5 linked regions of the Homo sapiens genome follow. The protein of the gene in region 1 interacts with the protein of each later gene in a biochemical or structural test. Each region holds a gene or a part of one and is shown in the gene's direction. Other genes may lie near its edges. The genes, in order: TOPBP1, SIRT1, NFYA, SMARCAD1 and TCF20.

Region 1 (5,640 bases):
GTTGCTAGTTGTTTACCCATATATAATTTCTTTGATTTTCACATATTGATCCTTTGTTATAACACGTATCTCTGGGCTTACTCCGCCTTGAATGTACATTATCTGAGGTTAATATAGCCTTTTCCTGTTTACTCTGTGTCATGATATCTCTTTGCATGGTTTTTAATTTTAAACTTGTCTGTGTCATATATTTAAAATGGCTTTCTTGTAGATAGGATATAGTTGGGCCTTGCTTTTTTTTTCTTTGGAGTGTTTAGTCCATCATGTAATTATTGATATGATTGGATTTAGGGATGGGGTTTTTTGCTGTTTGTTTTCTATTTGTTCTTTGTCCTTGTTCTTCTTTGTCTTTCTTGGCTTTTTTTGTATTAGTTTAATATTTTTAGAATTTTATTTTATCCATTGGCCTTCTAAAGCAAAAATATATTTACCTTTTGGAGGGAGAAGTGTTTATATGTAGATTACAAATTACTTCCTGAGGCCGGGCATGGTGGCTCACGCCTGTAATCCCAGCACTTTGGGAGGCCAAGGTGGGCAGATCACCTGAGGTCAGGATTTCGAGACCAGCCTGGCCAATATGGTGAAACCGTGTCTCTACTAAAAATACAAAAATTAGCTGGGTGTCGTGGCGCACACCTGTAATCCCAGCTGCTTGGGAGGCTGAGGCAGGAGAATCACTTGAACCTGTGAGGCGGAGGCTGCAGTGAGCCAAGATCGTGCCTCTGCACTCCAGCCTAGGTGACAAGAGCGAAACTCTGTCTCAAAAAAAAAAAAAAAAAAAATGAAAAAAGGTAGATCTCTTGCATCCAAGTTGGTTCATTTGCTTCCCCTGTCCTTTATACCAGGGGTCAGTAAACTATAGCCACCTGGCCAAACCTGGCCCACTGCCTATTTTATAAATAAAGGTTTGTTGGAAAACAGCCATACTCATTCATTTATGTATTTTCTATGGCTGCTTTTGCACTATAATGGCAGAGTTAAGTAGTTTCAGCACAAATCATCTATCCCACAAAATCTAAAATGTTTCTGTCTGAGCCTTTACAGAAAGTGTGCTGACCTCTGCTTTATGCAGTAGTTGTCATATATTTTACATCTACATCTTATAGCCCCAAATAAGATTTTACTTTAAATAGGTTTTGCTTTTAACAATTCTGTGCATTTTGAGGAAACTAAAATAAAAAATGGTATTTTATAATTACCCTCATGTATACCAGTTTGAGTGTCAGTTTTCCCTGAAGATCTGAGTTTCCATCTGATAACATTTTCCTTCAGCCTGAAGAACTAACTTTAGTTTGGAGTGCAGGTTGATTGGGGATCAATTCTAGCTTTCTGTTGTATGAAATGTCTATTCTACCTTCATTGTTGAAGGACAGTTTTGCAGGATACAGAATTATAGATTGACAGGTTTTTTTCTTCTATTAAAGACTTCACTGTCTGCTGGCCTCCATTGTTTCTGTTGAGAAATCAGTGATGGTCATTTGAATTGTTCCCTTGTATTCAATGTGTCATTTTTGAGACCAGCCACCAGCCTGGGCAACACAGCAAGACCCTTATCTCCCCCTAAAAAAGAAACTCTAGGTTCTATTGTTCCTTTGCTCCTCCAAAGAGTACTGTGTTGTTTAACAGGCAGTTTACTTCATACACTGTGTTTGCGTCCCCAGCCCCCCATTTGCTTGGTTCGTTTATTCTCCAGGCTCTATGGTTGCTTTTAATATATTTTGGTCAGAATTTGTAGCTGTTATCCATGGAAGAATTGAATCAAAAGGCACTTACTTGGTATTTTGTGGTGATTCATTTTCAGGTTGCCCAGTCTGCCATATTGCTAGAAAATTAAGTTTTATTACACTTATAATAAGGAGGAAAAGATCCATTTCTATGTTGGGAAATGGTTGTGGGGGGAAAATGCAAGGGTTTTGGAGTCAGATCAGTTATGAAATTTGGCTTTGCTACCTGCTAGTTATGTGACATTGGTTGTTTTCATTTAACCTTTTTTATTTTATCTCAAAAATGGGGATTAAAAACACCGATATGAAATGTTTGTAAGATCTGAGCTAGTCCCACTCTACCTGAACCATACACGTATTTCTTTGATAAAAGGTGAGACTTTGTCCCACAGGGTCCATTTTGTTTAATTTGCTGGAACCTAGGAATGAATATGCGTTTTCCTTTAAGTTTGTCAGATTCATCCCTGAGAGGTCTGAGATTTAAAGAAAAAATCTATTACCAGATCACGTAAATGTTTGAAATCATTTTAAAAAATCACTTATTTTTCCTTTTATAGGAATCACCTCCTCATGTAGAAAATTACTGTCTACCAGAAGCTATTTCATTTATTCAGAATAATAAGGAACTTGGGACTGGATTATCACAAAAGAGGAAAGCTCCTACAGAAAAAAATAAAATCAAACGACCTAGAGTACACTAATCGCATCTACCCTTTAGTTACCAAACATTAAATGTTTTTAAAAATTGAAAGCCTGAATGTGACTGTGATAGATTTGGGTAGTAATTTAAAGATGAGTACCTGAAGAATTCTGCTTCAGAGTATAATGATGACCCTTCTTGAGTTTTGAACACCTGAAATTGTAATCACTGAAATATTAACTGTTTCTTAATAAAAAGTTACCTGAAATAACAACAAAATACAACTCCTCAGCTAGCTTGCTGTTAAACCACATTGAAGTCTGTTAAAAGATATTTATTTTTCTTGTAAATATCTGAAGCTGTAGCTTAGTGGAAATTTTAGCAAGGTAATGGATTTTGCTTTAAAATGTCTGCCTTACAAATTCATAACAACAAGATTTGTCAGTCAGCATTTATTCATGTTTTCCCTGATTTTTATCTTCTCACCATTTTACCTCTTTTAACAGGAGCCTGAGCACAAGGTTTAATGAGGAAGCTGGGGCTATAAATATGTGTGTATATATGTATATGTATGTTTGTACAAATCTCCATGATGTTTGCCAAGTTTGAATGCGCAAAACTTGGAAAATGTGACAATAAAGAATAAAAGTAGTAACTCAAATTAGTATTAAGATGTGTTTACATAGATAAATTTTTTAAAAGAGCACCCTGGCATCTGTTCTTCTGTTGAAGCAACAAAACATTTATGTAACGTAAAAAATGAATTGCAGGGGCCTGGGTGCGGTGGCTCGTGCCTGTAATCCCAGCACTTTGGGAGGCTGAGGCAGGCGGATCGTCTGAGGTCGGGAGTTTGAGACCAGCCTGACCAACATGGAGAAACCTCATCTGTACTAAAAATACAAAAAATTAGCCCAGTGTGGTGGCACATGCCTGTAATCCCAGCTACTCAGGAGGCTGAGGCAGGAGAATCGCTTGAACCCGGGAGGCGGAGGTTGCGGTGAGCTGAGATCGCGCCATTGCACTCCAGCCTGGGCAACAAGAGCGAAACTCCATCTCAAAAAAAAAAAAAAAAAGAATTGCAGGCCAGGCACGGTGGCTCATGCTTGTAATCCCACCACTTTGGGAGGCCAAGGTGGGTGGACTGCTTGAACCCAGAAGTTCAAGACCAGCCTGGACAACATGGCGAAACCCCATCTCTGCAAAAAATAGCAAAAAATTAGCCGGGCATGCTGTTTGATGCTTGTAGTCCCAGCTACTTGGGAGGCTGAGGCATGAGAATTACTTGAACTCAGGAGGCAGAGGTTGCAGTGAGCTGAAATCATGCCACTGCAACTCCAGCCTGGGTGACAGAATGAGACCCTGTCTCAAAAAAAATAAATGAATTGCTTAACATTTCTGATATTTGTTATTTAGAATATTGCCCTATTAGATTAAAACATACTGTTATTGGAACTCTGTATTGCATTAGCCTTTATTATGCTAAACCTAAACACCTAATACTACATGCGTTACCAGAATTCTCTATAAATACACCTAATTTCATTTTAAGGACAAACTAGAATCCGTTAGGAATGTAATTTTGATGTAAACCGTTCAATTCCAAATGACTTTTTGAAAGGCAGATTCAAACAGTGAAGGAGAGAGTGCTCAACTTGGACACAAAATCCCTTAAATTTTCATCAGATTTTCTTCAAAATGGAGTTGAGGGTATCCCTGCTGCTAGAGGATTGGTCCTACAGGGTTTTCAGCTTTGAGCTAGTTCACAGCTTAGGACAATACAAATTCTACACAGAGAAATAGGTAGCATTATGATGTAAACTGTCCCCCTCCCACCAAACAAAAACCACATGGGCCTGTCTTTATCAGAGCTATTTTATTTTAGCTGAATCATTTTGTAGATTGTAGTACGTTTCCCTGAATTTTATTACTCAGAATCCTTTGAAATAGGCCAGGCACAGTGGCTCACACTTGTAATCCCAGCACTTTGGGAGGCCAAGGTGGGCAGATTACTTTAGGTCAGGAGTTCGAGACCAGCCTGGCCAACATGACGAAACTCCATCTCTACTAAAAATACCAAAATTAGCCAGGTGTGCCGGCACGTGCCTGTAATCCCAGCTACATGGGAGGCTGAGGCAGGAGAATCACTTGAACCAGGAGGTGGAGGTTGCAGTGAGCCGAGATCGCACCACTGCACTCTAGCCTGGGTGACAGAGTGAGACTCCATCTCAAAAAAAAAAAAAAAAAAAATTCTTTGAAATAGTTACTTTTTAAATTACCTAATATACCACTTTCTTTTCTGCCAAAATTATGAATGGTTTTCCAGTTCAAACTTAGACACACAGTTTACCATTTAAGGCTCCAGGTCTCAGTTTCTCCTCCTAACTTTCCAGCATCTGCCCATACTCTGTATAAGCCACTTGAACTCTGGCTTTGGCTGTTAATCTGTAAATGTCCTAATGCCAGCAACAATATCCTCTTATATACAAATAATTCCAAGCATAGGTAGTCTTCTTGTTTAAAAAGGGGAGGGGGCAGAACTTGCCTTGATTAGATTAGTATGAGTTTCTTTTCTGAATGGCTACGATATTTTAATCTGTGATATTTAAATTATCACCTTATATCCCTCCACGAATTTTCCTGTGCATTAGTCTGATCTCACCAACATTCGTTAATTCAACAGGTAGGAATCCTCAACCTGTGCCTAGGATTCAGCAACAAACCACCTGGAACACATGGTCCCTTAGCACTTGAAGAGGTAGGAATCCTTACTGTAAATACAGTACTCAATTATACTCAGATTTAGTATTTACACTGTTAAGGACTGAGCTTGTCCCCCTAAAATTCACAGGTTAAAGCCTAACCTGCTATGTGACTGTAGACAGAGCCTTTATAAGGGGATTAAATGAGGTCATAAGAATGAGTCCCTAACCCACCAGGACTAGTGTCCTGGTAAGAAGAGGGAGGCACACCAGGAGTTTGCCGGCACGGAGGAAAAGCCCTGTGAGGACACGGGGAGGGCAGCTATCTGTTTACACACCAGGAAGAAATGTCTCACCAGATACCAACCCTGGCCGTCTCCTGGATTTTGGATTTCCAATCTCCAGAACTGTGAGAAAATAAATTTCTGTTTAAGCCACTCAGCTTGTGATGTTCCTTTGTGGCAGCCTGAGCAGACCAGTAACAATATTAACAGTAATAAGGTTCTTACTTTGGGGCCTGAGATGCCTGGGAATGGAACAGGCTGTTTTGTATATGAGCATTTTTAGGGTAGAGTTC
Region 2 (5,936 bases), on another chromosome or scaffold:
CTCAGCATTCATGAGCAACTCTATACTATACCAGTATGTGCCTGTGCAGTGGAAGGAAAACAATTTTGGTAAGGATTAAAACTTTAGCTTTAAACTTCCAGCAGGTTGATATTCTAATGAATGATAAATCAAAAAAAAATTTTAAATATTCTTGTATTGACAGTGCTTTTTTTTTTAAATCACCCTACCTTGATATCTGTAATTTTAGTTTAAACTTTCCCATTTTTCTTTAAAGAAAAAAATCTGAATTTGCAGCCAACAAAAATTAGATATCCTAAGGTTGTATTACTTCTGACTTTTATTAAAATATCAACATTTCTTAGAGATGTTTATGGGCCGACTTTGTCTTTTTCTTCAAGGGGCCAAGTTCACTAATTGCTGAGTTTTATGCATATGACAGCAACCGTCCTTTTGTAGGTGTGTGTCGCATCCATCTAGATACTTTAAAATGCTCATCTATTTCATTTTTAAAATTATGTGTGTGGGATTATCAGTATTTTTTTGTTAAACATATGACATCTGTAGTTTATTTCACTAATGTAAATTTTTTCTACCATTTGCTTGATACAGGAAATATATCCTGGACAATTCCAGCCATCTCTCTGTCACAAATTCATAGCCTTGTCAGATAAGGAAGGAAAACTACTTCGCAACTATACCCAGAACATAGACACGCTGGAACAGGTTGCGGGAATCCAAAGGATAATTCAGTGTCATGGTTAGTAAACTTCAGAGTGGTTTTCTGTAATTTATTTTAGTTTTATAGGAAGATATTTCCTATAAAGCTGACTGCCATCGAGAAGTGGAGATAAAGCATTATTTAATCATGTTATCTCATTTATCGATAACCTCAGAAAAGTAGAAAACAAAAATAATAAAAACAGAAGTATTGGCCTTGACAGTTAATTATAGAAAACCTCAGATATTAATTTGCTTTTGATTTCAAAAGATGCTGCAGTTGCATGCATTCAATTATTTTAAATAATCTTTTCTGGCTGAGTGCAGTGGCTCACGCCTGTAATCCTAGCACTTTGGGAAGCCGAGGCGGGCAGATCCCATGAAGCCAAGAGTTCGAGAACAGCTTGGCCAACATGGTGAAATCCCAACTCTACTAGAAATACTAAAATTAGCCGGGCATGGTGGCAGGCGCCTGTAATCCCAGCTACTCAGGAGGCTGAGGCACGAGAATCACTTGAACCTGGGAGTTGGAGGTTGCAGCGAGCCAAGATTGCACCATTGCGCTCCAGCCTGGGAGACAGTGAGACTCTGTCAAAAAAAAAAAAAAAAAAGAAAAAGAAATTCTGAATACAAGAGTAGTATTAGCTGTTAATGAAGAAATGTGACATCTTTAGTTTATGAAACTAAAAGAACTGGATAGTTGAGATGTACAGGATTCAGAGATTCAGAAATGTTTAAAACAAGTATCAACAGGCCATTAGGTATCTAAAGTGTTTCTAAGAACTGCCGAGCTAAGGTAATAGAGTTGGAACTGTCCAACTCTGCAGGATTTTAGCCCTGGAGGAGTGAGCTGTTACAGTTTTGTTGAAAAGAGTAGCTTTAGAAGGCATCATTATATTAGTGTCTCAGAGATTGAGAATCATATTCATTCTATGTATAAATATATAAATTCTTCATCCCCTAGATTCTCCTGTAGTATATCACAAAATCTGCAGTGTGTTCTGAGGTTTAAAATCAAAGTTAAAAACAAAAACAAAAATCCTTAAACCCTCTTAACATTTGTGATGTTAAACTTTATAACGTTTGTGGTGTGTTCAAGAAACAGAAATACTTCTTTAATAAAGCATATATATGTTGTTTGTTTTTAGGTTCCTTTGCAACAGCATCTTGCCTGATTTGTAAATACAAAGTTGACTGTGAAGCTGTACGAGGAGATATTTTTAATCAGGTAATTTGTTGCCCATATTTTAGGAATTGTTCATGTCTCTGAAGTATTTCTTCTTTTGCCTCAAAATCCTTTTTTACCCCTTTAAAGTATATATGGTACAGAAAGATTCAGGAAGAAAATAGTTAGCATTTGGGAATTTTGGTAAAATACACGAGAACCTTTCAATACCTTATATAGAAAACAGCCCTATAAAGGCTCTTCAAATTATGAAATTGGCTTCTTAGTATCTAAGCCGAACATAAAATGTCAGATCATAAGCAAGTTGTTGTTGTAGTAGTTTTTCTCCTTCCTCTCCCTTTTTGTGCCTGTCAGATTTGGACCTTAAATTAGTTATGGTAATCTAAAATTATTTCATACATGTTCATTGCCAAAAAATATAGGAAAATTTGGCAGAAAATAAAAATTATCCAGAAATATGTCCTGTGTGCTTAGCAATATATGGAGGTAATCATGTCATTACGAAAGAGGAAGAATAGTATATTAAAATGGAGTCATTGGTCGGGTGCAGTGGCTCATGCTTGTAATCCCAGCACTTTGGGAGGACGAGGTGGGTCGATCATTTGAGGTCAGAAGTGAGACCAGCCTGGCCAACATGGCAAAACCCCGTCTCTCTTAAAAATACAAAAATTAGCCTGGCATGGTGGCATATGCCTTTAATCTCAGCTGCTTGGGAGGCTGAGGCAGGAGAATTATTTGAACTCGGGAGGTGGAGGTTGTAGTGAGCTGAGATCATGCCACTTCACTCCAGGCTGGGCAACAGAACAAGACTCCATCTCAAATAAATAAAATGGAATCATTTTATTTGACAAATGTCTATTTTTTTTTGAAAGGATCAATTCCCATTTAGTGTATATACACACATTATGTTTTTCCTCTTAATATATGATGGACTCTTCAATGTCAAGTGTTTTTCTACATAGATATTATAACAAGAGCATAGTATTTCATTGTTTCATAGTATGTTAATAAACTACCCATCATTGACAGTTGCTGTTTATCCATAGCTTTTCTGTTTTGTTTTTTTTTTAATAATTCTGAAATGTATTCTTAGAGGTATGGAAATGTTGACTATTTCTAACTTGGGCTTACTCTTTGCTTCTCTACCTCAACCAAAATCTGAAAATATGTAGGTAGTTCCTCGATGTCCTAGGTGCCCAGCTGATGAACCGCTTGCTATCATGAAACCAGAGATTGTGTTTTTTGGTGAAAATTTACCAGAACAGTTTCATAGAGCCATGAAGTATGACAAAGATGAAGTTGACCTCCTCATTGTTATTGGGTCTTCCCTCAAAGTAAGACCAGTAGCACTAATTCCAAGTAAGTTGGTGATGGTTTTTGGAGAACATTTCTATATATAATGTCATGGGTTGTGGGTCTGTATAATAGACGCTAGTAATCTTAACTCTGCTTCTGTTTGAAAGAGTGGTGAAGAGCTAATTTTAGAAATTGTTTGTTTGTTTGTTTATTGAGATGGAGTTTCCCTCTTGTTGCCCAGGCTGGAGTGCAGTCGCATATCTTGGCTCACTGCAACCTCCGCCTCCCGGGTTCAAGCGATTCTTCTGCCTCAGCCTTCTGAGTAGCTGGGATCACAGGCGTCCACCAACATGCCTGGCTAGTTTTTGTATTTTTAGTATAGACCGGGTTTCACCATGTTGGCCAGGCTGGTCTCGAACTCCTCAGCTCAGGTGATCCGCCTGTCTCTGCCTTCTAAAGTGCTGGGATTACAGGCATGAGCCCCCATGCCTGGCCAGAAATTCTTTATTTTTAGTAGAGATGAGGTCTTGTTGTGTTGCCCAGGCTGGATTCGAACTCCTGGGCTCAAGTGATCCTCCTGCCTCAGCCCCTTGAGTAGCTAGGATTACAGGCACGAGCCTCCACATCTGGCTGAACTGTTTTTTTAGGTGGCATTGTTCATTGAGACTGGTGAATCTGACATTTTGATGGGGGGTGGAGGGTTGTCAAAACGCAAGTAATGTTGGTGGCTCGTGCCTGTAATCTCAGCACTTTGGGAGGCCGAGGTAGGTGGATCGCTTGAGGGCAGCAGTTTGAGACCAGCCTGGCCAACATGGTGAAACCCTGTCTCTACTAAAAATACAAAAATTAGCTGGGCATAGTGGTGTGCACATGTAGTCCCAGCTACTTGGGAGGTTGGGGCATGAGAATCGCTTGAACTCAGGAGGCAGAGGTTGCAATGAGCCGAGAATGTGCCACTGCACTCCAGCCTGGGTGACAGAGTGGGACTCTGTCTCAAAAAATCAAAAACAAACCCAGAAGTAATGCTAAACTCTACTTCTAATTTATGTGAAAAATTAAGACAAAGGTAGAGTTCAACTTAGACTTTTTGGTGGAATGTGTTTTTAATGTTGCAAGGGTTAGCATCAATTAATTTATGAAATGGTCCTTTATCCTTATATTTTTTGATTACAGTTTTGATCTTTCAAATTTAATTGATTTCACATTTAATAAATTCAAATGTATAGTTTGGTAGAAGTGTAACATACCATGTAAGATGGAATTTGGGGGCTCAGAATGATTGGTTCATTCTTGTAGTAACAGCCATGCCATAACGGTGATATGTCGATATAGTTTACCCAAAAGGGTGTGTATATAAAAGTGTTCACATAAAATTTAAATCCTTATTACTCTCAGGAAAATTTCTTTGTCATATATATTCTCATACTGTCTGTTTCCTCCTCTAGTTTAGAATCAGAGGAGGAGAGAGAGAGATTTCAGTTGCATCAGATGTGTCCTTTCATAAGTGAGGGAAAGAGGAGAGGAAAAATATTAAATCCCTAGCCAGAGAATTGAATTAGACCCCACATCAGCAGTCAAGGCAGCCAGAGTAAACAGTTGGAAGAAACATGGAGTCAAGCTCTTCAATTTTGTGTCTATCCCATATCTCGTGGCTTTAGCAGTTAACTCAGTCTTACCTAATTAGCTGTGAAATTCTGTTAAAGTAGAATACAAGACAATTTGCAATTAAATGAAACATGAAAATTTAATATACAAATCTCTTTGTTCTTGAGTTGCTCTTCTTAAAGCAAAATCAAAGGCACTCTGCTTAAAAGCTTTTCTTTTTATTTTTTAGAGACGGGTGTCTTGCTGTAGCTCAGGCTAGAGTGCAGTGGTGCAGTTTCAGCTCACTGCAGCCTTCAACTCCTGGGGACAAGCAGTCCTTCCACTTCAGCTTCCTGAGTAGTTAGGACCAGAGGCGCACACCATGCTTGGCAAATTTTTAAATTTTTTTTTGTAGAAACGGGATTCACTTTGTTGCCCAGGCTGGTCACAAACTCCTGGCCTCAAGTGATCCTTCCTCCTCTGCCTCTCAAAGCATTAGGATTACAGGCATGAGCTACCATGCCTGGTCCTTAAAAACTTTTCTTTCAAAAGCTTTCTGTGGGATAGTATGATGTGTTGCAAAGATAATTAAAAAAAGAAACAGGTTTATAATAGCGTAGAATATGTTTATATGACTTTTTCCCTCCCCCCCTCCCCTCCCTCCCTCCCTTCCGTTTGTCCTTCCTTCCATTCATCCTTCCTTCTGTTAGTCCTTCCTTCTGTCCATCCTTCCCGTCCGTTCTTCCTTCCTTCCTTCGTCCATCCTTCTGTCTGTCCTTCCTTCCGTTCATCTGTCCGTCCTTCCTTCCTCCCACCCTCCCTCCCTCCCTCCTATCCTCCCTCCCTCCCTCATTGCCCAGGCTGGAGTGCAATGGCATGATCTCGGCTCACTGCAGTCTCCCGTGTTCAAGCAGTTCTCCTCCCAAGTAGTTGGGATTAGAGGCATGCGCTACCACACGCCCGGCTAATTTTGTGTTTTTAGTAGAGATGGGGTTTCACCATGTTGGTCGGGTTGGTCTTGAACTCCTGACCTCAGGTGATCCGCCTGCCTCGGCCTCCCAAAGTGCTGGGATTACAGGCGTGAGCCACTGTACCCAGCTCACCTTCTTTATATCAGGAGCTACTTAAGTAGAACATTTATGTACCAAGAACTCTTCTGTGCACTTGACTAACTCATTTAATCCTCACCACA
Region 3 (5,936 bases), on another chromosome or scaffold:
AAGGGATCTAGAGCTATATTTTTTCCTAAGATTGAAAAAACGAGTTTCTGACTTGTTTATGGGTTCTGCCCCGTGATAGTGGCTGAGTTCTTTGGGGATGAAGAGGAGACTTGTCCTAGGACTCTGAAAATTATTTTTACTCATGTGAATCATCTAGTGCATTCCCTGGCACATAAAGGTCTTAAGTATCTGGTGCCCATTTCTAAATTCACATTTAATGTTATACAACTAATAGGTTTCAGAAAACTCGTATTCCAGTGCTCTTTCATTACTAAAACTTCGGGGACAGGTTTTATTTTCACTTTTTAGGGTGAGTTTTTCATTGTTGCTTAAGTGATTTTCTTAATTCATTTGATTGTCACGTTATCCGCATTAGCAGATGAGATGATAGAGCTTAAGTAGTCTAAAAAACATGTATATTTGCCTTTGGAACGTTTTTTTGTTTGTTTTTGGATACAGGGCTTTCCTCTGTCATCCAGGCTGGAGTACAGTGGCGCAATCGTAGCTCACTAACCTGGAACTCCTGGGCTCAAGCCATCCTCCCTTCTTGTTCTCCCAAAACGTTGGGATTACAGGCATGAGCCACTGCGTCCTGACCTGAAATAGATGTTTTAACCTTAGTATTTAAAAATAGGTATGTTCTGGTCACTTCAAAATCACTAAATACTTTTGCTTGGCATCTTTCTAAAAGGCATTATAATCTGGTAACTTTTTTGCTAAATACCTTACAAGCTTCCACCAGTCTGCAGAAGAATTTCTTTGTCTGACATTTTGAGAGAAAGTAGTGTGGCCCCAAGCTTTTTTTCCTGTTTAGTCCACTGTTCACATGCTGAAATATTTCTGTTCTTGTTTTTATGCTCTCTTGATTTGTAGTACTTCACCTTCCTCCACATCATCACATAGCTAAATCTTTCTCACACTTAAGACCAGTTCATCCTGCAGGCCTCTGATAGCAAAGAAAAAAAAAGTTCAAGTAGTACCTTTTTTTTTTTAAGCCTTGTTGATTTATCCCCAGCTGGAACAAATCTCTGTCCTCCAAATTCCCATATCACTTTATCTCTTAGGATTCCAGTATAGGTTTTTAGTCCATTACTAAACTTAAAGACTCTTTGAAGTTTGAATCTTCGTCAGAGATTTCTTTTTATTTTTAAAACCTTCAGAACAGTGTCTGGCACATGGTACATAATTAGTGGAGAGAAGTGCATTAGAAAGCTCCAATCCAGAAATCTGTAGGATGATGGGGAAGCTGGACAGCCCTTTGTTGTAGTCTAGTCTTTCATCAAGCGTCTATCAGGACCCACTTGTTGAGTTGTGAAAGAAATTGAGTGAGCCAATGCTGGGAATTTTTAAATAATAGAATAGAAAATATCTGCCAGGCATGATGATGGCTCACGACTGTAATCCCAGCACTTTGGGAAGCCGAAGTGGGAGAATCCTTTGAGCTCAGGAGTTTGAGACCAGCCTGGGTAGCATAGGGAGACCCCCTCTCTTAAAAGAAAAAAAAGAATAGAAAATACCAAAGTGCATCTTGTGTTGTATAAAGGTAAATGCTGTTTCATGAAACTTTCATTTCAGTTACATGCTTTATACATGTGTGCACTGAGTTGTGATAATGAAATGTGTTTCTTACTAAGGGTTGTGGTCAAAAAAGTTAAAAAGCTACTGTTCTAGGCTTTGCCTGGTAGTGATTATCAACTGTGATAATCCTATGGCTTTTCATATGCTTACACTAGTTGAGTTTCTGAAGAGGTTTTAGCTTTGGAGTTTGTGTAGGTCCACATAGAATGGGTTCCTAGTAAGTGGTTGGCTAAGTCTCAGCTTTTGCACCTTGGAATAGTGGGGCAAAGAGAATTGCACTGAGAAGAGAATGCACTAGGAAGAGAATTTTCATGCTAGCCAGAATAAACACTTATTATTTGTTTCTCTCTCTTTGAGGAAAAACCATTCAAAACTTTGTGTTAAGAGCAAGAGCTAGACAGACTAAATCTGGCTTAGTTTGTCATAATCTTGGGCAAAGAGGCACTTTGGGAAAGACTATCGAATTGTATTGCAGTCTTGCTAACTGAAGCTCACAGTAGTAGGAACATATGACTTTACTGAAGCCAGTTGCTTATAGCATTAACCATTAACAGTATCAATATCATGATACAGGCTAAATCACTCTGTCATTAATGTGAGAGAGAATTGCTGCTAGATTTGAAGCTGCTCTTCAAATCTTGATACTCTTCAAAGTATAAATTTAAATATTGCTAAATTGGTTCATTTGTATTACCAGAATAAACTAGTTAAGAAGAAAATCTGTACGTTACATATATTAGTCATTATGTGCTTCAAGTTATATTTAGTCTTGTAAAGATGTAAACTTCTGGATATTAGTCAAGGAAAAAATCTCATATAAGAAGGAAATTTGGAGTTGGGGAGGCGTTGAAACCTAAAAGACATTCCTTTCATGATCCTTATTTTTTAAAATCAATTTATTGAGAGATACTTTAGAAACAAAGTATAATAATTTTAAATGTGTATTTTGATGAGTTTTGACAAATTTGTACACCTGTGCAACTGCTACCACAATGAAGATATAAAACATTTTCATCACCCTACAATGTTCCTAAGGCTCCATGCCAGTCAACCTCCCTCTTTCCTGTCTCCCTGTATTCTCCACTCCCAAGGAACCACTGATCCATTTTCTGTCTCTAGATTACTGATGTCTTTTGGAGATTTTATATAAATGGAATCATATATATTCGTTTACATCATAACCTTAATTTTATTAGTTTATAGCCATAAATGTATTGTGTATTAGAGACAAGATAGAATTTAGGGAAGCCTGTTAGTGCCCCTAACAGACTCACAGTCTGGCTGAAAACCTGATTTTCTATTCTATACCCAGAATCTCTGAGGAGCAGACTTAGTCAACCAATTCCAAAGAGACTGGTGTAAAAATCAGAAAACCGGTTTGTCATGTTGCTGATTATATTTGCTCCCTGTTGGCCAATCTATATGTAAATCCAAATTATAGCTAGAAATTTACCTAGCGAGCATTCCATTAGATCAAGGGCAGTGCTTTGGAGAACCATATGGCCACAAGTCCTCTTGCTGTGATGACATAGCCTGTTATTTATGGCTCATAGATTCTTATGTTGTATCCATTTTGGTTATGAGTAATGGGGTTGATTAATTTTTATTTTGATTAAATTTTGTTATATTTTTCCTAACATTCCAACATTCATTTGGGAAATAAGAATTTCTCAAAATTCTTATTCTAGAAATAAGAATTTTCAAGTGTGCAGTGAAATCAAAGGAATTTGAAAATAAACACCTGTATACCTGCCAGTTAGGGTCTATTAACATCTTACTATAATTGCCTTACCAGATATTTCTCCACCCATTCATCCATTTTTTGATGCATTTCAAAGTAAATTTTAGATATCAATACACTTCTTTCTAAGTACTTGGACATATAGTTGCACATATTTTGGTTTCTTCTTTCACACTGTATTGAGACACCTTGCAAATGATTAATTCCACCAGCATGTGTGGATTTATGGAGAGTGGTACTGTACTTTGCCACGATAATGAGCAGCTCAGTTAGGTCACGTCATTTTATTATTCAGATGTTGGAATTTATGAGGGCCTAGTGAAAAATCAGAGAGAAAGACCTATCTACATTTTTGTTTATATATCTGTCCTCCCTCCCATATTTCCAAGATGAATTGCCGATTGCTAACTTATATCATTTTAATTTTTTAATGAAGTCTTTATTAAAGGTTCTCAGATATCATTCAGTTTATCTAATTGTATCCTTATTTTTAAAAGTGGATCTTCAACTCTTAAAGTCTATGAGAAGGGTAAATTTTGCCTACCATATGTAGTGGACCTGAGTAACATGTTTGGTGGGAAGCAATTACGTGTTACAACTTAAAGAAGCTTTATTCTCTAAAGTATATGTGCAAACCTGAAAATCAGTGTTAGGTATGCCTTGTATCAAAGTGATGTAGCTTAACGAGTATCTCTTAGGTGCAAGTATTGCTCTGACAGTATTGAAAGGTAAGGTTGCCAGTATACTGAAAGCATTTTAGAAACGTGAAAATAGCATTATGTTGTTATGATTGTGCCATGTAATCCCAGTTAAAAATGATACTGAATATAAGCATTTCCTATTCTCCTATCCTGTTTTCTTGCAAATAAAGTACAGTGATAAATTATCCAGGTTAATTGTCTGGTAAGGCCTTTATTGACAATCTCACTTTAGTTTCTTTCCCCACCTTTCTAACAGGAGTGTACCTCACAGCCTTCTAGGATCTCCAGAGTGGACAGGAATCTCACTTGGAGGGACCATGGAGCAGTATACAGCAAACAGCAATAGTTCGACAGAGCAGATTGTTGTCCAGGCAGGACAGATTCAGCAGCAGGTATGGAAGCAAAACTGCTTTAAACATTACAGCAATGAAACTGATAACAGCACCACTCAATTGGTTGGTCTATTGCCCTGGGGAATTATTTGAAAGATACCAGATCTTGTGAGATATTGGGTCTGATGGCTTGTGCTGAAATGCCATGTCTAGCCCATGACCACTTAGAATCTACTCTTCATGGGTGCCTGGTTATAGTAAATTGCCTCTTTTATCTCATTTTAAGTAAAAACATCTAGTCTGGTTTTCAGATGGAAATTTGGACTTTAAAATTTTTCTGGATTCTATTTGGTCTTTTTCTCTTCTTGTTTGAGCTAACTTGTGATTTAGTAAGTCTTTGGCCACAACAGACAAACCAACATAGCTTCCAATAAATCTTCTGTTTTTTGATTTGGTCTGCCACATTTTTTATTCAGAAAAGCTCTGGTTTAACATTAGGATAATATTTAGACAGCCATTCTTATGGATAAGACATACTAGAAAGGAATTCCCTGCTGCTGGTTTATTCCTAATTAATAGATTGCTTTCTTGAATTTATACACAGGTTACATTTTCTGATGCTTTATGCTTGGGTTTATTATAGTAAAATTTCACTTTTTTCCCCACCCCAGAAGAAAAAAATGTATTATGTTTCTATTTGACCTTAGGCCAAGATTGATATTTTGGAAATACTTTGTTTTCAAAATGGAATTTAGCTAATATAGAAAAGTAGTAGGGAAGGGAAAGGTAGTATTGATGATGAGTTTTTCCCGTCTAATGATCAAAGACGAACTCCCCTGATAGCTTTCCCTTCCATACAGCTGCTGTGGCTCTGGCAGTTTCCTTCAACTGCCTTTTTAGAGGAAGGGATTCCACAAAGGGCCCTCCATTCACACCAGTGCCCTGGAGGGTGGGTTTTTATTCTTTCAGAATTTGCCATTAGTGGATGTAAAAATAAGGTTGAATCATTGAAAACATGGCTCTTAAAGCAGTCCAGTTGGGTAGAAATAATCTTAGTTTTGAAGCTGGGCATGGTGCTGCATGCCTGTAATCCCAGCTACTCTGGAGGCTGAGACAGGAAGGTTGGCTTAAGCCCAGGAATTCAAGACCAGCCTGGGCAAAACAGCAAGACCCCATCTCAAAATAAGTACATAAATAAAGTTTAAAAAAAAAAGAATCTTAGTTTTGGGACATGAGAGCATTGACGTCATGAAGATGATTTCGGTTCATAGTGATTAATTACTCCTCCTTTCTTGGTGATTGCATTTAAGCCCAGAATTTTTTATGGTAGTTTCAGGGCTATTAAAACCTAATCATTTTTTTCTTGTGAACTCATCTGAGGAGATAAAAAGGGCATTAAACAATTGTGTAAGTAGAAGTGTCAGATTCCTGTTTCTGGAGGGAAAGATTGCATTACAAATCTTTGTGTTAATGATGACAACTGTTTTGAGTTTTTGAGTCAAATTTTTGAGGTCCACTCTGGAGACAAAGGGCTAATATCTTTAATCCTACTACCTTCAACAAAACAGCTTCAATATAGGGAGT
Region 4 (5,936 bases), on another chromosome or scaffold:
CCGAAGAGCTGTTTACTGTTTTCCAGATATTTTATGTATTTTTTTATTGAGGTGAAATTCACATAGCATAAAATTAACCATTTTAGAGTGAACTATTTAATGCTATTTAGTACATTCACAGTGTTGTATACCATCATTCCTGTCTAGTTCCAAACGCTGTCATCACCTCGTAATAGCATGCTATACCCATTAAGCAGTTTCTCCCCATTCCCTCCTCCCCCTAACCCCTGGCAACCGCCAATCTGCCTTCAGTCTCTGGATTTACCTATTCTGAACATTTCATTTAGGTGGAATTATATAATATGTAACCTTTTATGTCTAGCCTCTTATTTTTTAATTTCAGAAAAATGTGTTTTATTTGTTTTTTCTTTTTTCAACTTTATGTTAGAATTGGGGTACATGTGCAAGTTTGTTACAAACGTATATTGCGTGATGCTGAAGTTTGAAGTATGAATGAATCTGTCACCCAGATAGTAAGGATAGTACTCCATAGGTAGTTTTCCTTAACTCTTCCCCCACATCCTCCCTCCGCCTTCTTGTGTTCCCCAGTGTCTGTTGTTCTCATTTTTATGAACACGTGTACCCAATGTTTAGCTCCCATTTATAAGTGGGAAATGTGGTATTTGATTTTTCTGATTCCACATTAGCTTGCTTAGGAAATGGTTTCCAGCTACATCTGTGTTGCTGCGAAGAACATGATTTTGTTCTTTTTTATTAGCCTCTTACATAGCATAATGCTTTCAGATATACTACAATGTTCATTCATGTTGTGGTGTGTATCAGTACTTCATTCTTTTTTATGACTTAGTGATATTCCATTTTATGTGTTTACCACAATTTGTCCATGACGCACATTTGATATATTAACAAATGAACAACTGAAGTTTAGTTTTCACTTATGTAGTGAAAAAGCAGTGGTCTAGAGTTAGATACTTGGATCTGTTCCCTCCTCAGCTGGTTGTTGTCCATCTGTGAGCTTTAAAATACTGTTCTTGGAATTTCAGTGTGCCTGGGCTGTAAAGGTGGCAGTATGAATTTTGAAGATTTTGAAATGGTTTCTCCAGATGGGTTTCACCAGTATGTCTTATTATTCCCCTGCTCAAAATCCTGTTGCTTCTTAAAAAAGACTAACCTTAGGCTTTATTCCATGTTAGCTCTGGTTTAATTCTTCATCCTTGTAACCTATTAACATTCTCTGCATTTGAGCCCAAGTAGACCACTTAGTATTATGAAACACATGCAATTTTCTTCTTTAGTCCAGATATCCATAGCATTTTATTGGTCTCTGTTTTATGAAATTTTATTTTACTCCATTGTGCAGAGGAGGTATCAGAATTTAGTTATTTCTATCTAAGGTACTGAAAGAGAAAAATAGCAATTCAGTTGTTGGATAATAAAGGAGGTTGAAGAAGAAGATTGTATTTTTCTCCATCTTGTGTGTATAGCATGTGGTGCAGTTCTAAGCAGAGTAGAAAAATGCTTTTTGATTGACTAAAATTTTTCCTATGCATGAACACAAGGAGTCTTTTCTTTTTGCTTAAATGTGGACTTTAACCAGTTTCTTCAAGTGAAGTTAAGTGACAGAGAAGAAGGAAAAGTGAGACTATGTATAGCCACAATTCTCATATTAATTAATCTGTTCGGTTTATACATTATTTAGTTCCACTTAAATTCCTTTTATCATTGTTTCAGTTTTATGTTGTGACTGAACAATTAATATTTAAGCCATTCTGTGAATCAAGAGTGAAGTAAAAGTAAACTCTTCTCAGAATTTGAAATTTATAGGTGGATATATAATAGTGAACATAGATGAGATATTTGTATCCTTTTAAAATTTACCGTTGTCTTGGAGAAGGCATCAGTATACTTGAATTATATTGAGTTAATTTGAGGATCATTCTAGTTTTTTAGGAGATTTATCTCATTTTAAGCACTGAGAATAAAGTTTGAGTTACCGGATATGCAATCAGGGTCTTTCAGTGATCTTAAGTCAGCAATATTTTTCATCCTTAAAGACATAAATATGTCAATGTTCACAGAAACAAAAAGAAACAGTTTGGATTCTTCTGACTGATGATGATAATTTTCAGATCAAGTCAAAATACAATGATAATTGCCTTAAGACCATTGTTATTGATATCTCTTAAATTGTTTTCTTTTTTTTTTCTCCCCATTAGGGAGAGGAATCAAATGAGTCTGCAGAATCTAGCAGTAATTGGGAAAAGCAGGAAAGTATTGTACTGAAATTGCAAAAGGAATTTCCCAATTTTGATAAACAGGTGAGTAGTCGTGTATGAAAATTTAATCAGTGTGTACTAAGTGTTTTTATTATAAAATAGTGTTAAGAGTTCAACCACATAAAAGCTTAGGGTGAGTTTTGTATTCTTCTAATTAAATGTTCTCCTTTTATCAATGTTATAAAGTATTTTCATACTGTTTATTTATGTTGTTTATTTACCTTGTTTACTATAGTATCTATACTGTATCCCTAAGTCATTAAAAAATAACCGTAATAAAAATTGTGAACTCATTTATAACATGTAAGTCATCTAGAAAGTCATCTGTAACCCTGCCCCCATCAAGTAACTGCTTAGTTTTTTTCATGTTCTCATTCTTGAAATTTCTTACAAGAATTTAAAAAGTATTCCATTTCAGTGTCTTAATATTTTATAAGCTTTCTACTACTTCCCAGATAGTGAGAATGTTTTCAGAGTCATTAAAAAAAAAGACTCATGCCACGCATCCTGTTGCTAAAAGGCCCTCTGTTTAATCCCATGATCATATATAGAAGCACATATTTGTTTAGCATTTAGAGTACATTTACACTTGCACTGATTTATTTGAGTATATATGTTCAGATAGTACATCTACTAAATTCTGATGAGCTGAATGCAAAATCTTGTTGCAATATTGGTTCTTTACCTTTGTTGAAACTACGTTTTGAAGTTAGCAGTTTGTAAAAGCCTAGCTGCATATTGAAATTTCATTTTTAATTGAGAAAACATTTCTTGATCCTCTAGTGTTCACAGTACTTCATAGTGAGCATTAGAAATGCAAAAAAATGTCAAGTTTTCTTTCCTTTGAAGACTATTGTGTATTTGTGGAGGTGAAATTACACAGAAAGCATTTGTAAAGCAGTGTAAAAACAAGTGCAAAATAATCAGATGTGAATTCTCTGTTTTCAGGTGATTAACTTATTTTTAAAAGAGCATAGACGTTTTCTGCAAGTTGCTAATTTGAGATTTTTAACAAAAAGATAAATGACTTATTTCTAGGAACTTAGAGAAGTACTCAAGGAACATGAATGGATGTACACAGAAGCTTTAGAATCTCTAAAAGTGTTTGCAGAAGACCAAGGTAATTATTCTGGGTCATAGAAAATACATACTTCTCATTATAGTCTGTATTTTAGTATATAAGAAAATGGTATATAAGAAAAGCTATTAGCTGTTAATCAGAGGGTGGGATTGCAAAAGATGTTGAAAGTAATGATGTAAAAACATTCTTTAACAACCAGTTTTTAAATGTTTTGACCTGCCTGTTCTTTATCATAGTGTAAAACAAAACAATAAATATCTTTTTCTATTTGTTCAGTCTTTCTTAATAGTTAAGGCTACTTTTAAATTGCCATGTTTTATTGAGTGTAAAATAACCTTTTTAACAACTGTCAGGATGGATCTTGTGATTGGTGATATCATGTCATTACTGTAATGTAGATGTCTTAGCCTATACTTGCACAGATATCAAAAGCACTAGCATCAAAAACTTAAGGGTATCATAGGCATGAACACATTTTGGAACACTCTTAATTCTAGGAACCAAATGATAGAGGAGAGGTGGTAAGGAAGAGTTGAGTCATACATGTTTAGTAACATACCTAAGGAAGAATCAAGTAGACTAGCTCTTCATAATTGCAAACCCAGCATGGTAGCTTTTGGTGTTTTGGTTTGGGTTTTTTTGTTTGTTTGTTTTTAATAAATTGTTTTAAAAGGCTATACTACCAATACTGTTGATGGCACAGAAAATGATATTCTGTGGCAAAAAGAAAGCCACCAAATATGAGTTTGAAAAATGAGTCAGAAGAGCCATGTTATGAATGTGAAAACATTTGAGGAATACTTTAGCCAATTCATTTTGCTTATTTTTTATAAATGCACAAAAATAAAGGTATGATAATCTGTGTAAGTCTAATAGCTTTCTGAGTAAGTAAAAATTTCTGAATAAAGTATTGTATTATAGATTGGTGCATGTTTTCTCACTGGTACATAAAATAATGGTGTTACCTTCATTCACAGGCATCTTAGAATTCTGTAAACTGATAATCAGTGATAAAGTAGTGGGGCTTTTTGATAATACTGTATTTGAATAATTTTTTTTATTTTTTATTTTTTTTGAGACGGAGTCTTGCTCTGTCGCCCAGGCTGGAGTGCAGTGGCACAGTCTCGGCTAACTGCAACCTCCACCTCCCAGGTTCAAGCGATTCTCCTGCCTCAGCCTTCTGAGTAGCTGGGATTACAGGCATGCACCACCATGCCTGGCTAATTTTTATATTTTTAGTAGAGACAGGGTTTCACCATGTTGGTCAGGCTGGTCTCGAACTCCTGACCTTGTGATCTGCCCGCGTCGGCCTCCCAAAGTGCTGGGATTACAGGCGTGAGCCACCATGCCCAGCCTATTTGAATAATTTTTTAAGTAACGATGCAACTTAGAATATTGAAGATAGTATTGGAAAATTATGGATAGTTGAAACATACACACTTTTTATTAGTAAGCTTTATAGTAGTGTAAGCATCATTCTGCTATATTCTTCAGTGTTGGCATAGTTGAGTGGGGCTGCTAGGAATATCTGAGACATCATACAGATACGCAGCTGCCATTTGTGTTCTCAGGACCTTTGTTAGAAAACAGAGATTTATATTTAATTCATTTTAAAAACAAGTTATCACCTGCTTTTGAAACAATTGTTTAACTTCAAATTCTACTTAAGTATTTTTAAAGTGTATCAAATTTAACAATAAATTGTCGTTGAATTCTTCTGTATTCAATAGGAATAGGTAAATGTTTTAAGTTTTTATTTGAAGTCTATCTTTATATTTATGTATTTCTAATTTAGTTACTGTTTTTGTCTTTTATATACAGATATGCAATATGTATCACAAAGTGAGGTTCCAAATGGAAAAGAAGTTTCTTCAAGAAGTCAAAATTACCCTAAAAATGCAACTAAAACAAAACTAAAACAGAAATTTTCAATGAAAGCACAAAATGGCTTTAACAAGAAACGTAAAAAAAATGTTTTTAATCCAAAGAGAGTTGTTGAAGACTCTGAATATGATTCAGGTTCTGATGTCGGTAGTTCACTAGATGAGGACTATAGTAGTGGTGAAGAAGTGATGGAGGATGGCTATAAAGGTAAAATTCTTCACTTCCTTCAAGATGCTTCAATTGGTGAACTTACTTTGATTCCTCAGTGTTCTCAGAAAAAGGCTCAGAAGATAACAGAACTCCGGCCCTTTAATAGTTGGGAGGCTCTGGTAAGGCTTTATTCTTTTTTTCCCCTTGTATGTGTGTGTGTATTTAATTCACAGTACCGGTTATAGTCAAGTTGTCTTCAGCCCAGGTAAGCATAGATGGGTGGCCTTATCCTGTGTAAAGTCAAACATTACTTTCATTGTAAGCCAATAGTATTTCAAATAGTGTCATATGACCTAATTTTGAATGAATTAAGGGGTGATTTTCCTGAAAAAACCCAAGCTGATTGGCTGGGAATACTGTCACTCATTCCTTTGCATAGAAACTTCGTTCATTTCACTGCAGAAGAAGAAATTAGAGCTTACATTTAGGAAGGAGTTGTTTGCTAGCCTGTTCTGATCTGTTACTGCTGAGACACCATGCAGAAAGCAAGAATGTGGCAGAAATTTTACTACAACTACTTGAAG
Region 5 (5,936 bases), on another chromosome or scaffold:
TGGAATTCTAGATTGGAAGTGATTTTTCTCTCACTGTCTTGCAGTCGTTCTTCCTGGTTTGTCCACTAGCTTCCAGTGCTGCAGTTGAGAAGACTGCCATTCTAATTTTTCATCCCTTGATGCATGTTCTGTTTTTCTTCTGGAAAGTTTGAGGATCTTCTCCTTTTCCCTAGGGTCTTGAGATGTCAAAATGATAGGTCTTGACTAGGTCATTTCATGGTTGTGTTGGCTACTCTATGAGATCTTATGTACGCTGATGTCTTTCAGTTCAGGCAATTTGTCATGTGGTAGTTCTTTGAAAATTTCCTTCCCTCTATTTTCTCTGCTCTCTTTATAATTCCTGTTAATATAAGGCATTTTACCTCCTGGATTGATCCGCTGTTTTTATCTTTTCTCCTCTGTTTTATGTTTTATCTCATTATCTTTTTGTTCTGATTTCTCTATGCTTTCTTCAGCTTTATCATCTAATCTTTTTTGTATGTGGGTTTTGTTTTGGTTTTGTTTTGTTTTGTTTTGTTTTGTTGTCACTCAGGCTGGAATGCAGTGGTGCGATCACAGCTTACTGCATTCTCGAACTCTGGGGCTCCCTGGTACCTGGGACTAAAGGTGTGTGCCACCATGCCCAGCTAATATTTATATTTTTTGCAGAAACAAGGTCTCACTGTGTTGCCCAGAGTGGTCTCAAACTGCTGGACTCAAGCAATCCTTCCACTTCGGTCTTCTAAAGTACCAGGATTATAGGCATGTGCCACAAGCCACAGTGCCCAGCCTTCTAGCCTTTTATTTACTTATTTTTTTTCTTGATATTTTGAAGAGCTTTTTTTTTCTCTGAATGTACTGACTTTTAAAGAATAATCAGAGCCTAGTTGATGGCTATAATCGTTTCTCTTGCTTTTTGAATACATTATAACGTATTTTTTGTTTTTGTTTTTGTTTCAGTTTCATGCCCTTACCCAGGCTGGAGTGCAGTGATGTGATGATGGCTCACTGCAGCCTCCAACCACTGGGCTCAAGGGATCCTCCCAAGTAGCTGGACCACAGGTGCATGCCAGTACACCTGGCTAAGTTTTTTACTTTTTGTAGAGACAGCATCTCACTTTGTTGCCCAGGCAGGCTGGTCTCACCACCTGAGCTTAAGCAATCCTCCCACGTCAGCCTTCCAAAGTGCTGGAATTACAGGCGTGAGCCACTACACTTGGCCTGTACTATAATTTTTAAAAATCTTTGTCTGTTTCCTATTTTCTCTTTCTTGTTAGAGGTTCTTCAGATGTCTTGATTTTTTTTTCTTTATTGAGATGGGGTTTCGCTCTTGTTGCCCAGGCTGGAGTGCAATGGCGCAATCTCAGCTCACCGCAACCTCCGCTTCCCAGGTTCAAGCGATTCTCTTGCCTCAGCCTCCTGAGTAGCTGGGATTAGAGGCATGCGCCACCATGCACAGCTAATTTTGTATTTTTAGAAGACATGAGGTTTCTCCACGTTGGTCAGTCTGGTCTCGAGCTCCTGACCTCAGGTGATCCGCCCACCTCGGCCTCCCAAAGTGCTGGGATTACAGGCTTGAGCCACTGCACCCAGCCTTGATTTATATTTTTAAGAGAGAAAGAGATGTTTTAAAAAATGACTTGAAGCTCTCTGTTACAGTATGGGCCAGGCTTGCTAGCCTGTAGTCCTCTCCGTAGAATAATAAGGCAGCCAGCCAGCATATGGGTCTTTTTTCTGAGTTGAGTTTTCCCAGAGGAAAAAAAAACATTTTTTTTTTTGTTCCAGAGAAAAATCTTGAGATTTCCTGTCTAGAGATGCAAGCTTGGCTGCCAGCGTCCTAAAAGCCAAGTGGAGAAGAGGATGGTAGGGTTGTGTGGGTGGGGATATGGGCTCATGATTCAGTGCGCGGACTTTGACAATCTCCCGCCTGTTTTCAGTGGATGAGAACAGTTACCTGGTTGAACTGGGTTAAGGATCTAACTCCTCTTAGAAACTTTGGGCTAATGCTCTATTTTTCAGCCCCATGTTGCACCCCCACTTACTGAGGCCTCCCCAAGCTCTGTGCCCTAAAGTGGCTGGCTTTCTGGGGGCTCCTCCACTGCACTCATCATTACTGTCTGCTTCCTTGCAGTGCACAGAATCACTGTCACTCACTTCATCTCTCATGTTTCCAGCTTCCCATTGCTCATGGTGTCATGAGTTTATCTTGCAAGTTTATCCACTTTTTCGTGGGAAGGGATCAGATGGATGTACAACTGTATGTTTAGTAGTCTACCATATTATTTATAACCTTCTGGCAAAAAGAAGTGCCCATAGACTATAGTAAAAATTATATTGAATGTGAAATATATATTTGAAATTAGAACATTTTAATTCAGTCATGCAAGGAGCTTGCCCTTTACTCTTATCATGTCCCCTATCTCCCAATTACGGTCTTTTCTTTGTGCCTCCTTCCCTGTCTCCATTATTAACATCACGGTGAAACTCCAAGTTTGAGGTAGAAGATTCACTTCCCCTAAGAAGTTTATACACAATGACATTTTAAAATGCAAAGATCCTAGGAGGATGTAACATTTAAGACCCTCAAGTACAAAATTCTTTAGTCAAATTTGAGCGCTCAAAATAATCCGTTAATCATCCTCTTGTCAAAGTTGAGTTCTTGCTTCCCAACTTTCCTTGGAAAGTCACAGTATTTGGTGGGTTTTTTGTTGTTTGTTTTTTGAGACAGAATCTCACTTTGTTGTGGGGTTTCACCATGTTGGCCAGGCTGGTCTGGAACTCCTGACCTCAGATCATCCATCTGCCTTGACCTCCTAGAGTGTTGGGATTACAGGTGTGGGTCACTGCGCCCAGCCTGTTTATTGCTTTTTGATGTGCATATGTGTATGTGACCATCTGACAGTGTTTTCGTTATTTCAACATTTATTATTAACATATCTCAGCCCAGTTTTTTTGTGTAAACTTTTAGGTGTTCTATAGCAATAATTGATAATCAGTAATCAGGCTAAATCTTCCCCAGCAAATCTCTAGATCCTGTGTCTCAATTCAGGTCTTGGGCCGAGCATGATGGCTCACGCCTGTAGTCCCAGCACTTTGGGAGGCCGAGGTGGGCAGATCGCCTGAGGTCAGGAGTTCAAGACCAGCCTGGCCAACATGGTCAAACCCCGTGTCTACTAAAAATATGCAAAAATTAGCTGGACATGGTGACAGGCACCTGTAATCCCAGCTACTCGGGAGGCTGAGGCAGGAGAATGGCTTGAGCCTAGGAGACGGAGGTTGCAGTGAGCCAAGATGGTGCCACTGCACTCTAGCCTGGGCGACTGAGTGGGATTCAATCTCTAAAAAAAATAAGAAAAAAGTTAGGCTTGTTGTCTCTTTGAGCTGATGTACCACTATCACTATAAGATCCGTTTCTAGCTTTTATTTACCTAGCTTTTATTCTACTTTTCTCAGTGCACTCAAGGACAAATTAAAATTACACTAACTTGCCTTTTATTTAATTTGACAGATGATGTTTCAATTGTCCAGGATACTTTGAGTCTAGTTTTATCTTACTAGGTTTTAGCAGATAGATGCATTCAGTTTTGGTCTTGCTTAATGAGCATGCCCTTAATCCTATCATGTAAGATAAAGTCACATATATTTCATTAGAGATCCATTTTGGCCTATGTATTTATCAGGTGTTTTGACAAGCACGATGTTATATTAAAATATTGGGAAGTCCTCAAGAGACATTGCTCCTCTCCCTGTGTCACACTACTCTGAAAATTGCCGAAAACTAGAACATTTCTATATTTAAAAATGGTGTTTACTTCCCTTCCTTTTTCCCTTCCTTTTTCCCTTCCCACAAGTGTGGGACTTGTGAATCTATTCATTTCAGCACAAGTCCCCTTTGCTTCTGTCCAACATTGACCACTGTTTGCCTTGGTATAATTGTGTATGAGAATCACAATGACCTCTGACATGAATGATATTACAGAGGTAATTGCCTCTGAATGGGTATGGATATAACTTGGTATGTACAAATCACCTTTGAGACATTAAGGAATGCCAAGGCGTGCAGGGATGTGACAGAAGGTAGATCTGGTGGCCATGGATCCCTTGAGGCTGGATAGCCCTACTAGTGGGGGAGTCGGGGAGTCTTTGCTTGTTCCCCTCTCATAGAAGGTGCCCCTCCCAAATTTTTCCAACCCCCCTTGGGAAACTTTTAATCTTTTTTTTTTACCTGACAGTATATGTTAACTGGTTTTAGGTTAATTTTTATTTTCTATTTTTATTTTTATTTTGAGATGAGTCTTGCTCTGTTGCCAGGCTGGAGTGCAGTGGCACAATCTTGGCTCACTGCAACCACCTCCTCGTGGGTTCAAGTGACTCTCCTGCCTCAGCCTCCCAAGTAACTGGGACTGCAGTCATGCACCACCACACCTGGCTAATTTTTGTATTTTTAATAGAGACAGGGTTTCACCATGTTGGCCAGGCTGATCTCAAACTCCTGATCTCAAGTGATCCACCTGCCTCAGCCACCCAAAGTGCTGGGATTACAGGCCTGAGCCACTGTGCCTGGCCAATTTTCTTTAAATTTCTGAATCAATATATTAAAGATTATATTTAGGGTTTTTTTTCCTTGATTTTTTGAGACAGGGTCTCACTCTGTTGTCCAGGCTGGAGTGCAGTGGCATGATCTCGGCTCACGGCAACCTCCGCCTCCTGTATTCAAGTGATTCTCCTGTCTCAGCCTCCCCAGTAGCTGGAATTACAGGTGCGTGCCACCACACCCAGCTAATTTTTGTATTTTTAGTAGAGACGGGATTTGAGGATGTTGGCCAAGCTGGCCTTGAACTCCTGACCTTAAGGAATCCACCCTCCTCGGCCTCCCAAAGTACTGGGATTATAGGTGTGAGCCACTGCACCTGGCCAGTTTAGGGGCTTATTTTTAATACAAGTTTAAATAATGGATAATTATTTACTTCCCCCATCTAACAGACTCACATCTTTCTTAAATTTACTTTAAATTGTGATGGAAAACATGATTTGGAAAATATAAAATAGATTGATTACATTATGAAAATGAAATCACATATTAAAACATCAAAACAGCCAAGTCAGAAAGGTAGGCTCTCTAGTTTAACTGTAAAATAGAGCCACCAGTCTACATGCTCTCTAAATTCTCAACTATATGTTCCTTGAAGGTGGTCATTTCCAGGGCCTGGCAAGGCCCCCATCCTGGTGAAGGCTCCCTTCAACTCCTGTTCTCTGCTCCTAACTCCAGTACCTCACCCCCACCCCTACCTGATTGTTCTTCCTCTGTGCTTGCTACAACTGCCCTTTCTCACATTCCCACACTCCCTTTCTCCATTCTCCTCTCCCTCCCAGCCCCCTCTCTCTGGCAAGCACTTGCTTTTTGTTACTTCTGCTGGGACCCATCTTCATTTCTCACTCTCTAGGCGGTGGCGCCCTGTTCCCATGGCTTTCAGTATATAGCAGAGACTTGTATCTAATTTACCTGTTTTTCTTAACACTGTGTGGTATATCTTTTTATATCACTGCATGATGACATTGACACTAAATTTCCAGAGAAAAGGTTCATTTTCTTTCAGGATTTCGTCCAAATTCTAAGGAATCAAGTGAAATTTTCAGTTTTGAATTTTATTGCATATATTACCTTACAGAATAAATCATGACAAATTGAAGGACTCAAATTTTACTACGATTTATTTCTTGACTTTTTTTTTCTCTCTAGAGGTAGGGGGATGATGTGGGGAGCATTACACTTGATTTTAAAGTAAAATTTATAAGGAGTACACGATTCTTTGGCCAAGGCTGGGCAAGGTGGCTTATGCTTGTAATCCTAGCACTTTGGATTACCTGAGCCCAGGAGTTTGAGACCAGCCTGGGCAACATGGAGAAACCCTGTCTCTACCAAAAATACGAAAATTAGCCAGTCTTAATGACCTAGT

What was found.
Region 2: of the proteins of TOPBP1 (region 1) and SIRT1, one has a biochemical effect on the other in vitro, tested with the Homo sapiens proteins (one study listed by BioGRID).
Region 3: the proteins of TOPBP1 (region 1) and NFYA form a complex in vitro, tested with the Homo sapiens proteins (one study listed by BioGRID).
Region 4: the proteins of TOPBP1 (region 1) and SMARCAD1 form a complex in vitro, tested with the Homo sapiens proteins (one study listed by BioGRID).
Region 5: the proteins of TOPBP1 (region 1) and TCF20 form a complex in vitro, tested with the Homo sapiens proteins (one study listed by BioGRID).

The regions. Positions count from the first base shown.
Region 1 is NC_000003.12:133,598,035-133,603,674, reverse strand, and holds the end of TOPBP1 (DNA topoisomerase 2-binding protein 1), read left to right. Parts: intron 1-2,281; coding exon 2,282-2,425; 3' UTR 2,426-3,437; downstream 3,438-5,640. UniProt on the Homo sapiens protein: Scaffold protein that acts as a key protein-protein adapter in DNA replication and DNA repair. Composed of multiple BRCT domains, which specifically recognize and bind phosphorylated proteins, bringing proteins together into functional combinations.
Region 2 is NC_000010.11:67,906,220-67,912,155, forward strand, and holds part of SIRT1 (NAD-dependent protein deacetylase sirtuin-1), read left to right. Parts: exon of another isoform or gene 1-35; coding exon of another isoform or gene 36-68; intron 69-570; coding exon 571-718; intron 719-1,826; coding exon 1,827-1,906; intron 1,907-3,036; coding exon 3,037-3,223; intron 3,224-5,936. UniProt on the Homo sapiens protein: NAD-dependent protein deacetylase that links transcriptional regulation directly to intracellular energetics and participates in the coordination of several separated cellular functions such as cell cycle, response to DNA damage, metabolism, apoptosis and autophagy.
Region 3 is NC_000006.12:41,074,753-41,080,688, forward strand, and holds part of NFYA (nuclear transcription factor Y subunit alpha), read left to right. Parts: intron 1-514; exon of another isoform or gene 515-597; intron 598-724; exon of another isoform or gene 725-946; intron 947-4,276; 5' UTR 4,277-4,337; coding exon 4,338-4,412; intron 4,413-5,936. UniProt on the Homo sapiens protein: Component of the sequence-specific heterotrimeric transcription factor (NF-Y) which specifically recognizes a 5'-CCAAT-3' box motif found in the promoters of its target genes.
Region 4 is NC_000004.12:94,247,477-94,253,412, forward strand, and holds part of SMARCAD1 (SWI/SNF-related matrix-associated actin-dependent regulator of chromatin subfamily A containing DEAD/H box 1), read left to right. Parts: exon of another isoform or gene 1-1,077; intron 1,078-2,177; coding exon 2,178-2,279; intron 2,280-3,185; exon of another isoform or gene 3,186-3,275; coding exon 3,276-3,357; intron 3,358-5,139; coding exon 5,140-5,531; intron 5,532-5,832; exon of another isoform or gene 5,833-5,936. UniProt on the Homo sapiens protein: DNA helicase that possesses intrinsic ATP-dependent nucleosome-remodeling activity and is both required for DNA repair and heterochromatin organization.
Region 5 is NC_000022.11:42,203,172-42,209,107, reverse strand, and holds part of TCF20 (transcription factor 20), read left to right. Parts: intron 1-5,936. UniProt on the Homo sapiens protein: Transcriptional activator that binds to the regulatory region of MMP3 and thereby controls stromelysin expression. It stimulates the activity of various transcriptional activators such as JUN, SP1, PAX6 and ETS1, suggesting a function as a coactivator.